2 linked regions of the Homo sapiens genome follow. The protein of the gene in region 1 purifies or fractionates together with the protein of each later gene. This does not show direct contact. Each region holds a gene or a part of one and is shown in the gene's direction. Other genes may lie near its edges.

What was found.
Region 2: the proteins of MBNL1 (region 1) and IARS2 purify together in Homo sapiens (affinity purification with mass spectrometry; 2 studies listed by BioGRID and IntAct, with this or other methods). This does not show direct contact.

Annotation. Positions count from the first base shown.
Region 1 is NC_000003.12:152,438,139-152,446,928, forward strand, and holds part of MBNL1 (muscleblind-like protein 1), read left to right. Parts: intron 1-7,143; coding exon 7,144-7,401; intron 7,402-8,565; coding exon of another isoform or gene 8,566-8,619; intron 8,620-8,790. UniProt on the Homo sapiens protein: Mediates pre-mRNA alternative splicing regulation. Acts either as activator or repressor of splicing on specific pre-mRNA targets. Inhibits cardiac troponin-T (TNNT2) pre-mRNA exon inclusion but induces insulin receptor (IR) pre-mRNA exon inclusion in muscle.
Region 2 is NC_000001.11:220,094,855-220,107,944, forward strand, and holds part of IARS2 (isoleucine--tRNA ligase, mitochondrial precursor), read left to right. Parts: intron 1-1,249; coding exon 1,250-1,372; intron 1,373-5,635; coding exon 5,636-5,795; intron 5,796-7,274; coding exon 7,275-7,423; intron 7,424-7,508; coding exon 7,509-7,558; intron 7,559-7,640; coding exon 7,641-7,750; intron 7,751-7,832; coding exon 7,833-7,923; intron 7,924-8,592; coding exon 8,593-8,708; intron 8,709-11,036; coding exon 11,037-11,206; intron 11,207-12,206; coding exon 12,207-12,297; intron 12,298-13,090.

The DNA of each region.
Region 1 (8,790 bases):
GTAATTTTTTATGGTGCAAAAAGAATTCATGAATGCATTCATTCTCTCATTTACTGAACGATATTCAGTAGAAAACTGTTGAAAATATTTCAAGTAGAAGATGTGAGAAATGTCTTTGAAATGCTTTAATTCCTGTCTTATCAATGACAATAAAAGATCCACATGAGAATAGTGCCCAAACTCATGACTGATGCCCAGTAACTTGTTAAATGAATGGATAAATGAGTCAGTCAACCAGTTACTCAGGTAATTAAACACAGAAAGATACATCCCCTTATTCAGGACTCAGGGTAATCCCACAGAGGTACTAAAATATAAAAAATGTTTATCATGTGTTAACATTCTCCTTGGAAACATGTTTGCATTTTGAGCACTTCAGCTATAAAATACAGCATCTTGGTTATGCACCTAGACCTAAAGGAGTGGTTTTCATACTTTAATGAGATTAGAATCACATGGGGTGATTGTTAAAAATGTAGGACCTCATCCCCAAAGATTGATTCAGTAGATCTGCAGTGGGGTTTGATAATATTTTTCTGCCATGTGATTCTAAATGCAAATAGTTAAAAACACATGCACTAAAAGATACTAGCATCTCTTATTTAGGCTTCAACTTTTTCATCGTTTACTTAATGTATTTGTAAATGATATGGTTTTTTGTGAAACTTAATTAAAAATCTGTCTCCTCAGATAAGTTGGTAAGAACACTGTGCATGGCATAGTGAAATACTTTAGGTAAACAATGATGACTGTTAAGGTAATTCATATTACATAGGCGTAATCCAATAAAAACCAGGGGACACGTATTCCAGACACTGATGAAAACATTAGATTGACATTTGGTTAGCTGCACCATTTTTACATCAGCAGTCTATATGAGAAAAGCATGAGTATTCCAGGAAAGGTGGGCAAACGACTTGGTTTCTGATAGTTTCAGTTCGCGTTTGCTTGTATTAAAATATAAAATAAATTATTCTTGGCTGAAAGTTTTATTCTGTGAGGTAATCATTACACAAGTTTCTAATTTGGGCCACTAATTGTTGTATGTTTCCATTACTTACACAGAAGAATCTAATAACCCTTTTCATGTAGGCAGAAAAAAATATAATACCCATTGACTACAAAAAATAGAACGTTTAAAGCTAAATGAGGATTAGAATGACAGTGAAAAGCATGCCTATGTTGGGATTTTTTAGGTGTTTAGTGGATTTAACATGATGGGATAAAAGACTTTCTATTCAGAAAAGATTAGGAAAGAAGATGCTTTTAATAATGTAGGAAAGTCTTATCGGTAGGATTATTTTAATTTTGCATTTTTGTAGAGGATGTTTGGCTACTGCTTGTGTGACTTTTTTTACTATCTCCAGAAAATTGCCAAGAAACCTTAAGAGTTTTCACATAGAGGTTTATGTAGGTTGTTTTTTTATATCTGTAATAAACTTTAGAATGGCTCTTAAAAATGTAGTCACATCTTCATTTAAACAATTTAATACACTATGGCTCTGTCAATTATTAATCTATGTGATTAGAGTTTTGATATGGTATAGAGTATAGTAATTGCTATATTAAGAACAGTGGTTCACACCTGCAGTCCCAGCTACTTGAGAGACTTAGGTGGGAGGATCACTTGAGCAGGGAGGTTGAGGCTGCAGTGAACTGAGATTGCACCACTGCACTCCAGACTGAGTGACAGAGGGAGACCCTATCTCAAGTAGTAATAATAATAATAATAATAACATAAATGAAATAAGGTAATGGCTAATTTGGTGTATTGACAAGCTTGTTTCAAAGTTGTGTCTATTTTCCTGTCCTCTTGGGTTTGCACAGTCATTCATGGGAATGAATAAATGACAACGTGGAAGTGGATTTAATGGTTCTGTCTTTGGTCATTCCTATTCAGATTTTATTTTATGTTTTTATAAGAGATCAAGTGGTAGATTCTTAGTTCTGTTACCTATAGAAGCATGCTTGTGTTTTCTGGCCTGAATAGTAATGATGGAGTCTGCCTTTTAGGCTTCAAAGAATGCTCCCATTTGATCCTAACAGAAATACTATGAGGTAGCTAAAGTAGGTGTCCTTTTCTTGAATTTTTTTGGAAGGAGAAAAATTGATCAAATATGTACAATTATTGAATAACCAAATGTATTAGTCCATTTTCACGCTGCTGATAAAGACATACCCAAGACTGGGCAATTTACGAAAAGAAAGAGGTTTATTGGACTTACAGTTCCACATGGCTAGGGAGACCTCACAATCATGGCAGAAGGCGGAAAGCACGTTTTGCATGGTGGCAGACAAGAAAAAAGGTTGCACAGGGACATAACCCTTTTAAAACCATCAGATGTCATGAGACTTATTCCCTATCTTAAGAACAGCTCAGGAAAGATATGCCCCCATGATTCAATTACCTCCCACCGGGTCTGTCCCACAACATGTGGGAATTCAAGATGAGGTTTGGGTGGGGACACAGCCAAACCATATCACCAACTGAAACTAGAAATCACATCATCCGATATTTATCTAGGGATTTTAATTGTACAATAAATTGACTACAGTTACATTTACCTAATCACCAGAATTATGAGGATTACAAAGTAGATATTTTAATCCTTTTTAAATGAAAATAGAGATAATTTCTTTACATTAAATTATAAACTCATGATCAGCGATGCTGTGGACACTTTGATCAAAGTGATTGATCAAAGTGATTATCTAGGATTACTTTTTAAAGTAATACTTAGAAAAATTTAGCTTGTTAGTTCCAGCTTAATAGAAAGTGAAGTCCATGCTGCTTATTGGTGAACATGTAGCTATATGTCTTTGAATACGTTTCTTAATATTGGCCATTAACTATTAAATTGACTTCTCAAAATGTTAAAATGGACAAAGTCCCTGTTTCTTGTTATAATTAGCTTTCTGTTCCTGCTTTTGATTGTTATTCTCCAAGATGACTGAGTTAATTATACAAATATGGTGAACACAAAACATATTACCTCAAAGGGATATCTCCTTAAAGAATATGCAAATGACCCTCCACTTTTGAATAAATTCAAATATTGACATTAATCTCCTTAGAATCCCAGTGCTTTAACTTGAGAGCATTGCTGAGTTTAATACTACTTATAAAACTTACGTTATTTTGACCATTTTGAAATATAGTTTTTCATGTATTAAAAAATTAGAGATCAAATGACAGGATTATTCATATTATCCAGATTTGTATGGTGTGTTGTAAGCTATGCATTATTTTATTCAGTATTCATGACCTTTTAAATAGATGTTAATAGTGTTTTCATTGTGAAGATTCCTTAGCTAGTAAAGTGATAGGAACTGGAACTCACAATTTTTGACTCCAAACCCTATTGTCTGTCCGCTATATTATTGCTATTTAGTTAACAAAAGAAGGTTTATTTAGAATTAATTTACATTTTCTTGGGAAATTTTCCTGATTATGTTTTCTTTTGATTATTTAAAGTTTATAATTATTCCATAGATGTTTTTCTGGAAATAGAACTTAAATGTTTTCAGTGAATATCTTCATTGTCAAATCTTGCCTTAGTATTTGTAAAGTAAAAGGCTCATGTTGAATCACATTATATGTGTAGCTAAATAGATCTTATTGTTTTAATGCAGGTTTGAAAACCATTTATCAAACAATATTTTTTTTCTTTTGTGACAGAGTCTTGCTCTGTTGCCCAGGCTGGAGTGCAGTGGCACGATCTTGGCTCACTGCGACCTCCACTTCCCAGGTTCAAGCAATTCTCGTGCCTCAGCCTCCTGAGTAGCTAGGATTACAGGCGCCTGCCACCATGCCCAGCTAATTTTTGTATTTTTAGTGGAGATGAGGTTTCACCATGTTGGCCAGGCTGGTCTCGAACTCCTGTCCTCAAGTGATCCACCCACCTCAGCCTCCCAAAGTACTGGGATTACCAGCTTGAGCCACCGCGCCCAGTCAGAAAATATTTTTATGTGTTGACCCAGTACATACACATATACCAATAAATCTGTACATTTATCTGCCAAAAATAATGAAAAATGCCTATAGTCATGGATATATTCTTGGAATATTACTTGTAATATGGAAATACTGGAAATTATCTAGATATCCTCCAAAAGAGTTACCTGTATTATGTACACTATTTGATGAAATTTGATGCAGCCATCAAAAGTATTCACTCTGGAAATTATTTAGCAAAATGAGAAATGCTTATGCTGCATTGTTGAGCATAAAAGATCACCAAATAATAGCTATACTATAATTACAATTATTTTTAAAAATGTGTGCATACATACAGAAGACTGGATGAGAAGAGAAAAATGAACCACAGTGTTGTTAGAATTTTCAGATTTAATTTTATATTCTGTTTCAAATTCTCTGTATGATAAATGTTATAATTTCTTATCCTGTTTTTAATTATGAGATTAAATTTGTGAAATGTTGTCAGTTATAATTTACTAATGTAATAGTATGTCTAAGAGATTTATTTTGGGTATCAGCATAGTCTAAAGTGTCCTTGAGTTTATCAGAGAAACCAGATCAAACTCATATTGAGCAACCAAGGGATAGATCCCATTTTATTGATGATGTCTATTAGGGAAAATGTGTTTTAGAAGGTTTGGGAAGTTCATGTTCCCATAGGTACCCCACTATTCAGATGCATATCTAATGCTTGGTAAATTTCCAGTCCCACTGGCCTGTAACTCTCACCAGTACAAGTTTTCACAAGAGATTTTCTCTTCCTTATTTTTTCACAAGCAAGAATAATGTGAGAGTAGCTATTACAGTATGTTTCTGTCCTATTTCTTAGGAGAAACCGTAAGCTGTAAAAAAAAATAAAAATATGAAAGAGTCAAACATGCATATTATGCAAAAGCAGTTGACTAAGTTTTTTTTAACCTCAGAAAAGGTTGGTTTTATGACACATTCTGAGCTAATTCTTAGTTATTAAGTCTGCTTAAATATTTTTAGAATTCTTTCTAAATGTTCCACAGGAGAGTAAAGAACATGAAATTATAATAAACCAATCCTTAACCTGTAGAAACCCCCCCCCCCACACACACACACATGCAAATACATACACACAGAACCTAAATAAATTCAAGTCTTCTTTCTTGTTAATGCGGCAAAGAGTAACCTAAATTGGAAAAGTAGAGTATTAGTTCCCTGCTGCCAATTCATTTTGAGCATATTCAAGAAAGCAGGAATTACTGAGGGAGCAAATAGCAGCTGAGAGAGATCACTTATAGACCTTCTGCAAGTTTCCTGTTTGGTGATGCCTACATTGACATAGACTTGCTTAAACAGAAAAGTAGCCCTTTCGTTTATGCAGTAGTATATATTTAGCATACACACACACACACACACACACAACTTTTTATCATTATTTAATGTAGGCACATCACTCTTCCTGAGTATAGTGATGAGCCTCACATACAATAAATTTTGATTAGGTACTGGGTACTGTTTTAGCAAGCTCCATAGCTGATGCTAATGTTCAGCCAGAGAGGAGGATAATTATTCTCGGTAACAGCTTGATCATTTTTTGCTTTTAAGTTATAAATCTTGGTAATACTTTTTTTCTTATGTTCAATAAGATAAATATGCTAATAAAAAACCAGAATCTTGAATAACTTTTTAAGTCATTTTTGTGATCTTAATAACTGAGTGTAGTGGTGAATGACACTGGCTCATTGTATGTATTTGGAACACAAAACTTTAGCTAGGTTGAGGTTTCCAAGTAGTGCAAGATATCATTTATAATGCTCTTTTTTAAGATGTAGCATGATACAGATTATAGTATCTCCTTCTTTAAGAAACACTTTCCTCAATAATAGGATATGAATATAATGTGGGAAAACACCCAGATTTAAATGCAATCATTGTATTTATACAAATCCAAGAAAACCTTTGCTTCCTAAGTCGTAGTAGGGTTACAGTTTTTCTTTCTTGCTTAACTTCAAAATAAAGTGCTTAGTATCTGCGTTTGCTATTTGTGAAAAGATACTTGAACAATTAAAAACTGTTTCCTTGAAGCTTGAAGTAAGAGCACGAAAATATTAAAAGGACATTCTGTGTTTTAGATGGCCCTCTTGTGGTAAAAGGGTCAAAGTATCCTGAATGAAGACTGCTTTTAAATAGTAAGAGTCAAAATTGCGCAGATGAATGAGAAATAATGTTCTCGCCTTTTCCCTAAGATCTCCGTGGCAAAATTAACAGAATTAGCAAATATAAAACAAACAGACATAACAAAACCAATCTTTTTTTACTGCTTTATATAGCTACCAAGTGAATCTCTAAAGATCAAAAAAATAACTCCTGGAAACATTTTCATAAAAAGCTATCAAATTTGATTTTGTATATTTTTCACTTGGAAATAATTTTATATTTACACGAAAGTTGCAAAAATGGACCCAAGAGTTTCTGTCTACGCTTTACTGATCTAAATATTAATATCTTACATAACTGTAGAATCCCTCTTAAGACCAGAAAAATTAACATAGATATGCTGCTGTTTAACCAATCTACAGACTTTAATCAAATTTTACCAATTGTCCTCCCAATATTCTTTCTGTGACTCCAGGATCCTCCAGCTTGTGATAATATCTCAGTCTGTCTTGCATGACCTTGACACTTTGGGAGAGTACTAGTCGGTTATTAGTAAAATATCTTTCCATTCACTTCATCTGATGTTTCATCTTGATTAAATTCAGGCAGTACTACCTCTACTGTGATTGTGTGCCCTTCTCATTGTATCATATCAATAGATACACAACATCATTATGTCTCATTATTGGTGATATTAATTTTGATCACTTGGTTAAAGTGATGTTTTCCATGTTTCTTTACTGTGAAGTTATTATTTTTCCCTTTGCAATTAATAAGTTTATCAACACCATTTCAGATTGTATTTTTACCATAATTAACATTATACATGCATTTTCTTATGGACATTTATACTGAAATGGAGTTATAATTTGTAACTAAACTAGGAAATGCTGAAGTTACTTGTTGCCTTGTTTGAAAATCATTTTCCCTTTTCATCTATAGCCTTCTGTCACCAGTCTTGCACTTTAAGTTAAAATCTTCAGAAAGCTTCTTCTTCTTCATGTTGACTAAACCTCATGTACTTAATGACCTCATAGGTATGTCGAGAGTACCAACGTGGCAATTGCAACCGAGGAGAAAATGATTGTCGGTTTGCTCATCCTGCTGACAGCACAATGATTGACACCAATGACAACACAGTCACTGTGTGTATGGATTACATCAAAGGGAGATGCTCTCGGGAAAAGTGCAAATACTTTCATCCCCCTGCACATTTGCAAGCCAAGATCAAGGCTGCCCAATACCAGGTCAACCAGGCTGCAGCTGCACAGGCTGCAGCCACCGCAGCTGCCATGGTGAGTAGAGATATCAGCTCTCTCCTTGTTAGCAGTCAGAAAAGCAAAGTGAGCAACTATATCTGACTACAAGCTATTCATTTAGTAACCTTTTTAAAAAAATTGCTGAAGATATGTTTGTTCAGGTATCCCAGACAATATATAAAGAAGTTACTTTCACAGAAGTGAGGGTAACTCCTCAAATGGTTCAGATTGCTCCTACTCTTGGCCTAACTCTTAATCTGTCTTATTGTGGATGTAGGGTTTCTGAAATCTCTGCTTTGTAAAGAACCACCTGTCTCCTTTTCAACTTAACGATATTGCCATTTTCAGTCTTCTTATTTCTGTGTGCCATCTAATCAGCCATTGTTTTCCTTTGGTGTGTTCTTTTGCACATCAAGGCTCTTCTTTACATATATCTTGCTTTTAACAATAACATGATCTGGAACTATTTAGGAGAATTGTTCAACAAAATTGTTCTTAGAATTAGCTACAGGATTTTGAGTAGTATACTATCTAGATTGTCTGAAATAATATTGTGGCATAAACATAATAGTAACACTAGAGAAGCTTGACTATGCCATTATATAGACAGGAGAGAGACAGCAGTACTCAAGGAGTTAGAAATTGGATCATTAAGAATAGCTACTAAACTATATTCTCAAGGTAAATTTTAATGTGATCTAGTAGCTGATTTTAATGAGCCCATTCTTTGTTCTTTGCTTACCTGTTTTAATGTTGTCATTTTTTTACATAAATATATGACTTAAATCAATGAAATACTCATTTTAAAAGTCACTGTGTAGTATTTCATAACACAGTGAAATAATCACGAGAGAGATCTTTTCTGTGTTTATGGATACTTGAGCAAAAATACAGAAGGCAGACTCTCTCCTCCTCTCTTCCTTTCACTCTTTTTTTTTTCTGTTAGAGTATCTTGTTTGTAATTAACTACAAAGAGGAGTTATCCTCCCAATAACAACTCAGTAGTGCCTTTATTGTGCATGCTTAGTCTTGTTATTCGTTGTATATGGCATTCCGATGATTTGTTTTTTTATTTGTTTTTTCTCACCTACCCAAAAATGCACTGCTGCCCCCATGATGCACCTCTGCTTGCTGTTTATGTTAATGCGCTTGAACCCCACTGGCCCATTGCCATCATGTGCTCGCTGCCTGCTAATTAAGACTCAGTCGGCTGTCAAATCACTGAAGCGACCCCTCGAGGCAACCTTTGACCTGGTACTATGACCTTTCACCTTTTAGCTTGGCATGTAGCTTTATTGTAGATACAAGTTTTTTTTTTAAATCAACTTTAAAATATATATCCTTTTTTCTGTTATAGAGTTGTAAAGTACAATGAAAAAACTGAGTGTGGTTTCCTGACAAAATTAGTAGAAAGACTATAATCTA
Region 2 (13,090 bases), on another chromosome or scaffold:
AGGCTGGGCGCAGTGGCTCACGCCTGTAATCCCAGAACTTTGAAAGGCCAAGGCGGGAGAATCGCTTGAGCCAAGAGTTCGAGACCATATTGGCTAGTCACCCCCACCCCCCCGTCCTTAAAAAAAACCTTAAAAACCTCAATTATGATGAATGAAGGGGAAGTTGAAGCCCACTTCTTGGATCTTTTAGATCCCTAGTTGGAATTATGACTCGTTTGAAGTCGCCCAGGCTGGAGTGCAATGGCGCGATCTCAGCTCACTACAACTTCCGCCTCCCAGGCTCAGGCAATTCTCCTGCCTTAGCCTCCCCAGTTGCTGGGATTACAGGTGCGCACCACCACGCCCGGCTAATTTTTATATTTTTAGTAGAGATGGAGTTTCACCATGTTGGCCAGGGTGGTCTCTAACTCCTGACCTCAAGTGATCTTCCCGCCTCGGCCTCCCAAAGTGCTGGGATTACAGGCCTGAGCCACTACGCCCAGCCTAGTCTGAACTTTCTAAGAGCAGAGATTCCTCTTTAGCTTCTGTAATTCTAGTCTTTAAAAATCCCTGATATTCTTGGAATATTGGTTAAGTAAATATACTTAGCCTAAATATTCTGACAGTTATAAGAGTTCATCTAATTTTTTAAAGGTTTTTTAGTCAATACCTTCTGTATGCCAGAAAGAGTGACAGTTTCAAATGTTTCCTCGTTTAATCTTCACACCAGCCCTGTAAGATGGATATTAACACTTTTTTTTTTCAGATAAGAAAGCAGGCCCGTAAGTGCACAGTAACCTGGACAAAATCATACAGCAAGTGAGGGAAGGGAAGTGACTTAGACTGCCATGCATGTTGTTCCCAGATTTGGGGAATGGCAAGCATTGCCGCCAAAGAATAGCAAGAATATGTGTGTCGGGAATCTGCAGGTCCTTCAACATGTCGGGGGTGAGGAGTGAAGCATGGGGAGTGATGAAAGAATGCCCGAGAACTTAGTGGCACTAAACCTTTGTAGGGTGCTGCATATCATATAAAGAGTTTAGACTTCAATCTGAGGTGTATGGGGACATTACTGAAAGATTTTAAGAGATGCGTACTTTGACACGCATTTCAGAAACCTCACCTTGTATTTCAGAGTTGAGTAGATTGGAATGGAATAGATTGGAATGTAATTGGAATGGAAATAAGCAAGTGTTGGCTGTTATTTATGGTTAGACTCAGGAGTATGTATTTATATGATGTTTAGATATCTTTTTTTTTTTTAAAACAGAAATGTGGATTTTCAGAACTTTATTCATGGCAAAGAGAAAGAAAAGTAAAGACAGAATTTTGCCTTCATGATGGACCTCCTTATGCAAACGGTGACCCTCATGTTGGACATGCTTTAAATAAGGTAACTATAATTTAGGTTATGACACTTGAAAGAAAGTGTTTATGTAAATACTCTTTATAAATGTGTATTCTAATTATATGATAATTATGTAAATTTAGATTTGCACATAAAACTAAAACATTTTCATAGAAAGCAATATACAATTTTAGTACTGCATAAAAAAAATTGCTGCTATTTGCTTTGAGCTTAACGTTATATTAGTAAACATCATCTTATTCAGTGCATAATTATCGGGCGAGGCATTGTTCTAGAATCTGGGAATAGCAGTGGACAAAAAAAAGGTATGTCTTGGCCGGGCAGTATGGCTCATGCCTGTAATCAGTGCTTGGCCCACAGATATCAATAATTCATTATTTTTAAAATGCTTAGTAGAATTTCATTGAGAGAATATGTTAATACTACAATCTGTTCACTCATTTTTCAGTTCTTTATTTTTTGTAGATTTCAGTGGAAATTTTGGGGAGGAAGTGGGCTTAGGCATCTGTAGTTTCAAAACCAGGAATTTGGTCACTGAATGGGTCAATAGTGCTATTAAAGAGACCAGGCGCAGTGGCTCACGCCTGTAATCCCAGCCCTTTGGGAGGCCGAGGCAAGCGGATCACGAGGTCAGGAGATCGAGACCATCCTGGCTAACACGGTGAAACCCCGTCTCTACTAAAAATACAAAAAATTAGCCACGCATGGTGGCGGGAGCCTATAGTCCCAGCTACTCGGGAGGCTGAGGCAGGAGAATGCCGTGAACCCGGGAGGCGGAGCTTGCAGTGAGCCGAGATCGCGCCACTGCACTCCAGCCTGGGCAACAGAGCAAGATTCCGTCTCAAAAAAAAAAAAAAATCATGTTTTGTGATATAAATACAGAATAAAACTCTATTATTTCAAACCCTTTTGCAAGGAATGGAAGAGCCAACATTAACTGGATTAAGCAAAGAGAGAGAATTTACTGGCTTTTTTACTGTAGAGTCCAGATAGTTTTAGCCACCTGCATAGCTGGATCAGGAATTCACATAAAATTAAGAATTGGTTTCTGTCTCTCACTCTTTGCTACTTTAGTGACTGCCCCACCCCAGACCCCCAGCACATTTCCCAGTAGTTTCAGGCTTACATAATTCCACCTTCTCTTTCCCAACAGTTCTTTTTTCTTTTTTTTTTTTTTTTGAGACAGAGTCTTGTACTGTCGCCCGGACTGGAGTGCAGTGGTGCAATCTTGGCTCACTGCAATCTCCGCTTCCCGGGTTCAAGCGATTCTCCTGCCTCAGCCTCCCAAGTAGATGGGACTACAGGCGCCTGCCACCACGCCCGGCTAATTTTTTGTATTTTTAGTAGAGAGGGGGTTTCACTGTGTTAGCCAGGATGGTCTCGATCTCCTGACCTCGTGATCTGCCCGCCTCTGCCTCCCAAAGTGCTGGGATTACAGGCGTGAGCCACCACGTCTGGCCCCCAATAATTCTTATAAAAGTCCTGGAATTGAATCTCATTGGCCTGATTTGGGTCGCACATCTATTTCTGAATCAGTCATTGCAGACTTGGGGATAGAATATGTTAATGGCTACAGTGGATCACGTGTTCACTCTTGGAGCTGCAGCAGAGGGAGCCAGCTCCATGTGGATTGAGGACAAAGGAATAATTCCATAAAAAACAGTGGCATCTTTTGTTGTTGTTGTTCTTTGAGACAGAGTCTCACGCTGTCACCCAGGCTGGAGTGCAGTGGCGCAGTCTCGGCTCACTGCAAGCTCCGTCTCCCGGGTTCACGCCATTCTCCTGCCTCAGTCTCCCGAGTAGCTGGGACCACAGGTGCCTGCCACCATGCCCAGCTAATTTTTTGTATTATTAGTATTATTTTTTAGTAGAGACGTGGTTTCACCATGTTAGCCAGGATGGTCTCCATCTCCTGACCTCATGATCCACCCGCCTCGGCCTCCCAAAGTGCTGGGATTACAGGCGTGAGCCACTGCACCCGGCCAAAACAGTGGCATCTTACAAAACTATCTCTCACATGAAGAGAAACCTTCTTGAAGCCCTTAGCAAAGAGCATGGGCACTTTGGAACTAGGGAAGGACCAATTCTTGCTCTTCCTCACACATGCTAATTATAGTCTTGCTTGCTTTCTCCTCTTCCTAGAATGCATCACCAGAATATTCACATGGATCACCTCCTCATTTCTTTCAGATTCTGTTCAAATGTCATCTTACCAGGCTCTCTTGACTTCCCTCTAAAATGGTACCACCCCCAGCCCCTAAATGTCATTTTCTAACCCTATAATTTGCTTTTTTCTCCATAGTGTGTGATATGTTGGTATATATTCTGTGTTCCTCCATGAGAAAAAAGACCTTGTCGTTTTTGTTTACTACTATATTCTAGGTTCCTAGAAAAATTCTTGACATACAGTAGGCATTCAGATATTTATCCCTCAAACAAAGCAATGCATGAATATTAGAAAAATGAAAGGAACAGAGATAAATGACTCTTAAAAGTATGGAGGAACTTTTTTTGGGGAGAAGGAGGGTGGTGTTTGATACTGAGGAGTTAGTAAAATATTCCTATGATATTGCTACTATTCTTTTCACTAGAGGCTTCATATATTATATTTTATTATTACATTTAAGAATCCTTATTAGGTACACTGTTAATTATTAGTTCCAGTGATTGATTTCATCCTGTTCATATGACTGAAAGCAACACTATTCAGTAGAAATACAATGCAAGCGGCTGGGCGTGGTGGGTCTGGCCTGTAATCCCAGCACTTTGGGAGGCTGAGGCGGGCAGATCATCAGGTCAGGAGTTCGAGACCAGCCTGACCAACATGGTAAAACCCCCTCTCTACTGAAAATACAAAAAAATTAGCTGGGCATGGTGGCATGTGCCTGTAATCCAGCTACTTAGGAGGCTGAGGCAGGAGAATCACTTGAACCTGGGAGGCAGAGGTTGCAGTGAGCCGAGATTGTACCACTGTTCTCCAGCTTGGGCGACAGAGCGAGACTCCGTCTCAAAAAAAAAAAAAAAAAAAAGAAATAAATATAATGCAAGCTATAAATTTGTGCCACATAGGTAAGTTAAAATTTTTCTAGTGGCCCCAGAAAATAATGAAAAGAAACAAGTGAAATTAATTTTAATATTACATTTAACTCAACATATCTAAAGTATCATTTCAACATACAGTCGATGTAAAACATTTTTGAGATATATCACATTTTCGTAAAACATGTTTGAAATCAGGTATATATTTTATAATTTACATTACATCTGAATTCGGACTAGCACCAAAAATCACATGTGGCCAGTGGCTACTATATAAGATACCATTGTTTAGAGCATATATGCATCCATGTATTCATGTATTTGATAAATATTTATAGACTAGTGCCAGAAACCATTCGAAAGGCTGGAATTCATAGGTGAAGAGGACAGATGGGCTCTCTGATTTCATGGAGTTTATGTTTTACAGGGAAGAGACAAAAAAATAAGTAAACAATTTCCAAAGAGTTAAGTAGAAAGGAGGTTATTTATATGATGATTGATTTAAATAATATACCCAGAGTAAAGTGAACCAATCTTAAGTATGTATAGCTAGATGAATTTTTTTTAATGTGACAACCACTCAGATCACAAGGCTCCTTCCTGTTCATTAGTAAACAGTTTGAAATTAGAGTTTTTAAAGGGGGGAAGGGATGGGAGGAGAATATAATAATATCTTTTCTACTTTTGATAGGCATGGAAAGGAGGAAATTGTTTTCTGGACTACTGGGCTAGTGGTCAGAGCACTGTTTCCTCTTGGGAAGAAGGAAATTGAGCTTGGAGCCAAATCTATCCTTTGCCTTTGATTCCTCCATTCAACTATAGTAATATATTTTTTAAAAGGCTCTGCTGCCCTCTGGTATCTAAAATGAATTTAAAAAGGTAAATTGGTTCTAGAACTATACCTAATGAAGAGGTCTACTGTTTTAGTAAGGGTTTGTCAATGACAGAGTTAACCACAATATTCCATTCTCTGAGTACACTGTAAGTTCTGCAATGGTTTGATGATATTTCTTAGCTCAATATAAATAATATTAGACTATTTGTGTCAATAGTTTTTTTATGAGTTAATTTATACGTTTCCTTTCAAATTGCAGTTTTAAAAATGGTATTAAGTTTAAAAAAAAGAACATAAATTGTAGGCCAAATATTTTATGTATGAATGCTAATTATCATTTTATCTTTGCAGATTTTGAAATACATGGCCAAATATTTTATGTATGAATGATAATTATCATTTTATCTTTGCAGATTTTGAAAGACATAGCCAATCGATTCCATATGATGAATGGCTCCAAAATACATTTTGTGCCCGGCTGGGATTGTCATGGGTTGCCCATTGAAATAAAAGTATTATCAGAACTTGGTAGAGAAGCTCAGAATCTTTCAGCTATGGAAATTAGAAAGAAAGGTAAATAATCTGTATTTCTGTTTTAAAATGATATTTGTAAACACTCAGGTCCTTGAAATAGTCAGAACTTTACCAAAGGAACCTTTTGTTTGGGTTTCGTTTGCTTATAATAAGATCTATTGGAAACGCCTTTCTGTCACAGAAAATTCAGATTTTATTTCATTGATTTTTGTAAGAACTTATGTTTGGATATTGAAGGAAAGACTTTGTGAGCATTTCTGATTGCATTCTCAGTTTCTTAATGTTCATATTTTAAAAAACTATTTTTTGGTAAATTCTTTTTTCTGCTTTCCTCAAGGGGGCTTGTTGACTGATTTTAGGTGTTAAGCCAAAATTCAATTCTAAAATACATATATTTTACATTAATCTTTTATTTGATCCTTTTTCTTCAGTCGACTGGGCCAAGGGAGGATTCTCTTTTTCTTATATGTTATACTATTGTACATTTGGATGTAACTGTGAAGATTTTTTTACTTCCTTGTGAAACCTATTATCATTGGCTTAGATTTGATATTCTGATTAATTTTTTGTGTATAATGAAATGAAAATTGTTATCTGACCTTTTCTTAAATTAAGAAACAATAAGGAATAATTTTTCCAGTTTATTTGTCCTAAATATGAGGTCATTGTATAAAGTCTGGAAAATACAGAAGACAGTAATAAAATTTTAACTTTTGCAATTCCAGTTAATTTTAGAATTTGTTGTAGGTATCTTCTGAACACTGTTGACCTTCAAATTATTTTTCTATTAAAAAATTTTTATAGGCTGGGCACAGTGGCTCATGCCTGTAATCCTAGCACTTTGGGAGGCTGAGGGAGGTGGATCGATCACCTAAGGTCAGGAGTTTGAGACCAGCCTGGCCAACATGGCAAAACCCCGTATCTACTAAAAATACCAAATAATTAGCCAGGTATGGTGGCTCACGCCTGTAGTCCCAGATACTTGGGAGGCTGAGGCACGAGAATTGCTTGAACCTGTGTGGCAGAGGTTACAGTGAGCTGAGATCCGCCACTGCATGCCAACCTGGGCAACAGAGCAAGACTCCATCTCAAAAAAAAAAAATTTTGTGCTCGGGCGCCGTGGCTCACGCCTGTAATCCCAGCACTTTGGGAGGCTGAGGCGGGTAGATCACGAGGTCAGGAGATCCAGACCATCCTGGCTGACACAGTGAAACCCCGTCTCTACTAAAACTACAAAAAAATTAGCCGGGCGTGGTGGCGGGCGCCTGTAGTCCCAGCTACTCAGGAGGCTGAGGCAGGAGAATGGCGTGAACCCGGGAGGCAGAGGCTTGCAGTGAGCCGAGATCATGCCACTCGCGCCACTGCACTCTAGCCTGGGTGACAGCGAGACTGTGTCTCAAAAAAAATTTGCATTCTAAACTGTCTGTAGCATTTGCATTTAGAGAGATACATGCTAAACCATGTTTAAGAATTCGAATTCATTGGTTTTTTAAAATCTTTTTTTCGTCTTTTTTTTAGCTAGATCATTTGCTAAAGCAGCCATTGAGAAACAGAAATCAGCATTTATTCGTTGGGGAATAATGGCAGATTGGAATAATTGCTACTATACATTTGATGGGAAGTATGAAGCCAAACAGTTGAGAACTTTTTACCAAATGTATGATAAGGTAAAGAAGTATTTTTTCTCTTTGAGTAGGTTTTAGTATGCGTTACAAGATTCTACTTTTAACATCATATTTTTGTCTTTTATAGGGCTTGGTTTATCGATCTTACAAACCTGTGTTTTGGTCTCCGTCATCTAGGTATATATGCATTTTTCGGTAATTAAAAGGGAGAAATTTGTGAGGCTTCCAAGTATTTATGTTTAATATTTTTAACCCTTAGGACTGCATTGGCTGAAGCAGAACTTGAATATAATCCTGAGCATGTCAGTCGTTCAATATATGTAAAATTTCCTCTCTTAAAGCCTTCTCCAAAATTGGCATCTCTTATAGGTAAGATTTATTCATAGCTTGAGTGTACCAAAGTTATAGAATTATCCCATTTGCTAACATATTTACAATTGTATTTTCACAGATGGTTCATCTCCTGTTAGTATTTTGGTCTGGACCACACAACCTTGGACGATTCCAGCCAATGAAGCTGTTTGCTATATGCCTGAATCAAAGTGGGTATATTATTGCATTTTTTGTTTTATACACAAATAGAATGTATTCCATTATTAACATTATTTTGAATTTATTTTATCCTGTTTATTATTGTAAAATTTAATGAATTATAACTTAGTTATTATGTTCATATAGATTTTATTAACCTTTAGGTGATCCTTTTTATGACCTTATCCAGCTTTTCGGGAAAATGAAATAGAAGTATAAGTTACAAAGTGTTTTGAAAATAGTACAGTTTGATCTTGAAGTCAGTTTTTTCTTTTTTCTTTTTTTTTTTGGAGACCGAGTTTTGCCTTTTGTTGCCCAGGCTGGAGTACAGTGGCATGATCTTGGCTCACCACAACCTCCACCTCCCGGGTTCAAGCAATTTTCCTGCCTCAGCCTCCCGAGTAGCTGGGATTATGGGATTACAGGCATGCGCCACCACGCCAGGCTAATTTTGTATTTTTAGTAGAGATGGGGTTTCTCTATGTTGGTGAGGCTGGTTGCAAACTCCCAACCTCAGGTGATCCACCTGCCTTGGCCTCCCAAAGTGCTGGGATTATAGACATGAGCCACCGCGCTGGCCTGAAGTCAGTTTTTTCTAAAATGATTATTTAAAAATTAAAATGATATCTGTGGCTTTTCTTGTTTCATTATTAGTAATTTCTCCTAAAATTTTATGTTAGGTATGCTGTTGTGAAATGTTCTAAGTCTGGAGACCTCTACGTACTGGCGGCAGATAAAGTAGCATCTGTTGCTTCTACTTTGGAAACAACATTTGAGACTATTTCAACACTTTCAGGTGAAGATTTTTAGATATCTGACAACATAGTCATCAAAGTATTGGGCTGACTTGAATTTACTACTTTGCTGAACTGCATATTTTGAATTGAAACAGATATGGCCTCTACCTTTCTAGAATACATTTTACATTGATTACACTAAAGGAGAATATACATTAAGCATGATAGGAGTATAGAAAAATATGAATATTGATAAATGTACAACAGGTAAAACTAATTTCTGGCAATATCCAGTAGTTACTTGGTAAAATTTTATGCAAAATTAATTTTTAAAATTGTTTTTATCTGTTTTAATAAAAGTAGCAAGAAAGGAAATGCATATACTTATTTTTCGATACATAATTTTAATAAAGGATTGAATAAGTTCTGAAAATTATTCAGAAAGCAGTTCTTCTATCAAAGGAATTTTATTTTATTTTATTTTTTAAAGAGACAGGGTCTCATGCTGTTGCCCACTGCTGGAATGCAGTGGTCCAGTCAGCTCATTGCAGCCTCAAACTCCCGGGCTCAAGCAATCCTCCTGCCCTGGCCACCCAAGTAGCTGGGACTATAGGCACATGCCACTGCACCCGGCTAATTTTGAAAAAATATTTTACAGAGATGAATTCTTGTTGTGTAGCCCAGACTGGTCTGGAATTCCTGGGCTCAAGTGATCTGCCTGCCTTGGCCTGCCAAAGTGCTGGGATTAAAGGCGTAAGCCACTGTGCCTAGCCCAAAATAATTCTTTGTGAGCTATAATTTGGGACTTTTGAGGTAGTGACTGCTTTGAAATATAATTATGGAAGTCTAGGGAAGTTTAAAATTAGCTTTTTGTTGTTGTTGTTCTTCATTTTGTTTTGAGACGTGGTCTTGCTCTGTTGCCCAGGCTGGAGTGCAGTGGTGCCATCTTGGCTCACTGCAGCCTCTGGATCCTAGGCTCAAGTGATCTTCCTGCCTCAGCCTCTTGAGTAGCTGGGACTACAAGTGTGTGCCACCATGCTGGACTAATTTTTAATTTTTTTGGTAGAGATGAGGTCTTGCTACATTGCCCAGGCTGGTCTTGAACTCCTGGCCTCAAGTGATCCTCCTGCTTTGGTCTTCCAAAGTGCTGGGATTATGGGCATGAGCCACTGTGCCTGGACTAAAATTCTATTTTATTTTATTTTATTTTTAAAGAGATGAGGTCTCACTATGTTGCCCAGGCAGATCTTGAACTCCTGAGCTCAAGTGTTCCTCCTGCCTCTGCCTCCCAAAGTGGTAGGATTATAGACGTGAGCCACCATGCCTGGGCTAAAATTATCTTTGATCCTTAGGTATGATATATCTTTTAATTTCTTGCTAAAAAATCTATCACATGAATAAAGATACAAAAACTGCCTAGAAAGACTGCCTAGCTAAATAGGAAAGCCCTCTAAATTAATCAGTTCAGATACAAGCCAATGAGAAGTTTAAACAACCTTAACAAAAATAAAAAGATTTTTATGTCAGAGGCAGGAAAGGAGCTTAAGAATTTTGAAGACCATTTGGTCCTCTTTGGTGCAATAGGGTAATAAAAATAAAAACCAAGATAATAATTTACTTCACACCCTCTCTCACTGTGTTGCCCAGGCTTGTTTCAAACTCCTGGGCTCAAGCAATCTTCCTGCCACAGCCTCCCAAAGTGCTGCAATTACAGACATGAGCTACTGCACCCAGCCCCCTGCTCTTTTATAAATGCAGAGGATATTAAAGACTTCATTGTCAAGTTATACATTATCATAGAAGCTAAAAATCACAAGATTTTTGAAAGTGTTAAGGTTGAATTTAAAGATCTTTTGTCTAGATAGCATAATTGTTTCAAATTCTTACTATCAGATAATTATTGAGTTGCTATTTGAGTCACCATATTGTGGAGGAGTATATATATTATCCCTGTCAAAATAAGCTGGTGTCACGTAGCTACTACTTATTAAAGTAGTAGGAATGTTGAAGAGCTAAAAATGAAGTAATTTGTATGGGGTAGGTTTTCTTTCCGGAAAAAAATGAATTATTTCTTATCAATTACTTAGAGATCATTTTGGGAGGGTGGTGAGGGAGAATATTAAGTGGTAGATGCAGTAAGTATCAAAACACTTAAACTACATTAACTCTGTTTATTCTCACAGAAACCCTCTGAGGTGGGAACCATAATTATCTGCATTTTATAGATTATAGAAGGTCACAGAACAAGTTAAAGGGGAAGCTGGAATTTAAGCCTAGCCAGTATTGTTCTAGATTCTGCACATTTAACCTGATACTCTATTGCTAAGCTTAAGGAGATAGATTTGCCATATAAAATGATTCTTAATAGTGGTTTTCTTTCCCCACAGGTGTAGATTTGGAAAATGGTACTTGCAGTCATCCATTAATTCCTGATAAAGCCTCTCCTCTTTTACCTGCAAATCATGTGACCATGGCAAAAGGAACGGGATTGGTTCACACAGCCCCAGCTCATGGTATGGAAGACTACGGTGTAGCGTCTCAGCACAACCTGCCCATGGTACTGTTCCTCTTTTATCATTTTTAATTATTCATCTTAATAAAAGGAAATGATAAATTCTAACCAACATCTTCATTTTTTAAAAATGATGACTTTTGTCATCATAATTGTGAAATGCTCAGGTTTGTGTAGTACTCTAAAGTTTCATTAATTCGTACTAATTGAAAAAGATTTCCCAGAATTAATAGAAAATTAGCACTTTAGAATTGAAGAATATATATCATGGGGCACTTTTAAAATACTTTTTTTCTAGTATCAAGTCACATAGACAAATTACTTTTATTCCCTGAAAAAGCCTGTTTGTTTTAGCTAAACAGTCCTTTCTACATTTACTTTACATACTTCAGTTACTTAGCAAGTATTTCCGTTTAGTTAAAAGGTGAGTCAGAAAGGGAACAACTGTGTATATAGGCATAGATTTGGAAACAATAGAGACCACTCAAAGATGTTTTAATATATTTTGTTACTTTTGTTATTAAAGTTTATGGATATGCTTCAATAACACATTTTGGCTTTGGTGATTTAAATGTATAAAATTCACAAATTCCTATTTCCTTTTCTTTTCTTTTCTTTTTTTTTTTTTTTGAGAGGGAGTCTTGCTCTGTCGCCCAGGCTGGAGTGCAGTGGTGTGGTATGATCTCGGCTCACTGCAACCTCTACCTCCAGGGTTCAAGCGATTCTCCTGCCTCAGCCTCCCGAGTAGCTGGGACTACAGGTGCACACCACCATGCCTGGCTAATTTTTGTATTTTTAGTGGAAGTGGGTTTCACCATGTTGGCCAGGCTAGTCTCAAATTCCTGACCTCAAGTGATCTGCCCACCTCGACCTCCCAAAGTGCTGGGATTATAGGCCTGAGTGCCGCGCCCGGCCAAGTACCTAGAATTTCAATGTAGAAAAAGACCAGGCTATACTGAGATGTTTTTATATATATTGTTTTGCCAGATATTGTCATAAGAGAAAATGTCTTGATATTTTAATTGTTCAAAATGATACTTTATAGGATTGTCTAGTGGACGAAGATGGAGTTTTCACAGATGTTGCAGGTCCTGAACTTCAAAACAAGGCTGTCCTTGAAGAGGGAACTGATGTGGGTGAGCATCATATCTGTTGATATCATACATGTTTTCTGAAAAGTAGGTAGCAGTAACCTTTGCTACCTATTTTCCCTCCTTATACTTTAACAGAAACAAAAAAATAAATTATGTCTTGTTTTGCCATATGTTTTAAAATGGAGTTTGGGACTTTTTCATCTTTTGCTTTGAAGCTGCTTTATTTAAGCAAGTCAGGGCAGTCAACAGGGAGTGAAGTTATTTTAGGGCTATGGAGATAATAATCAGCAGTATTACTTTTGTGGAAGGATACAATCAAGATCAGGGCTGGATGTTGACTGTAAATTACACATTCCCTACTCACTTTTTAACCCTTGTAAATAACTGACCTATATGGCATGATTTATGTATTAGAATCTTGGGAATCCTCCAGCCTTGAATTGTCTTTCTGTCTTCCTTTACAGATTCAGAGACCAAGTGCTATGAAAACCTTTCTTTGCCCACACTAAGACTAAGGCTATTTAGACCTGATATATTACTTTTCTAGGGCTACTGTAAAAAATCACCGTAAACTTGGTAGTTTGAAACAACAGAAATTTATTCTCTCAAGTGCTGGAAGCTAGAAGTCTAAATTCATCGTACTGGCAGGACCATGTTTTCCTGAAGGTTTTATGGGAGAATCCTTACTTGCCTCTTTCTAGCTTTTGGTGGCTCCTGGAAATCCTTGGCATTCCTTGGTTTATAACTGCGTTACTCCACTCTCTGCCTGTCTTGTCACATGGCCTTCTTTAGATCTTACTTGTTTTTTCGAGACAATCTCACTTTCTCACTCAGG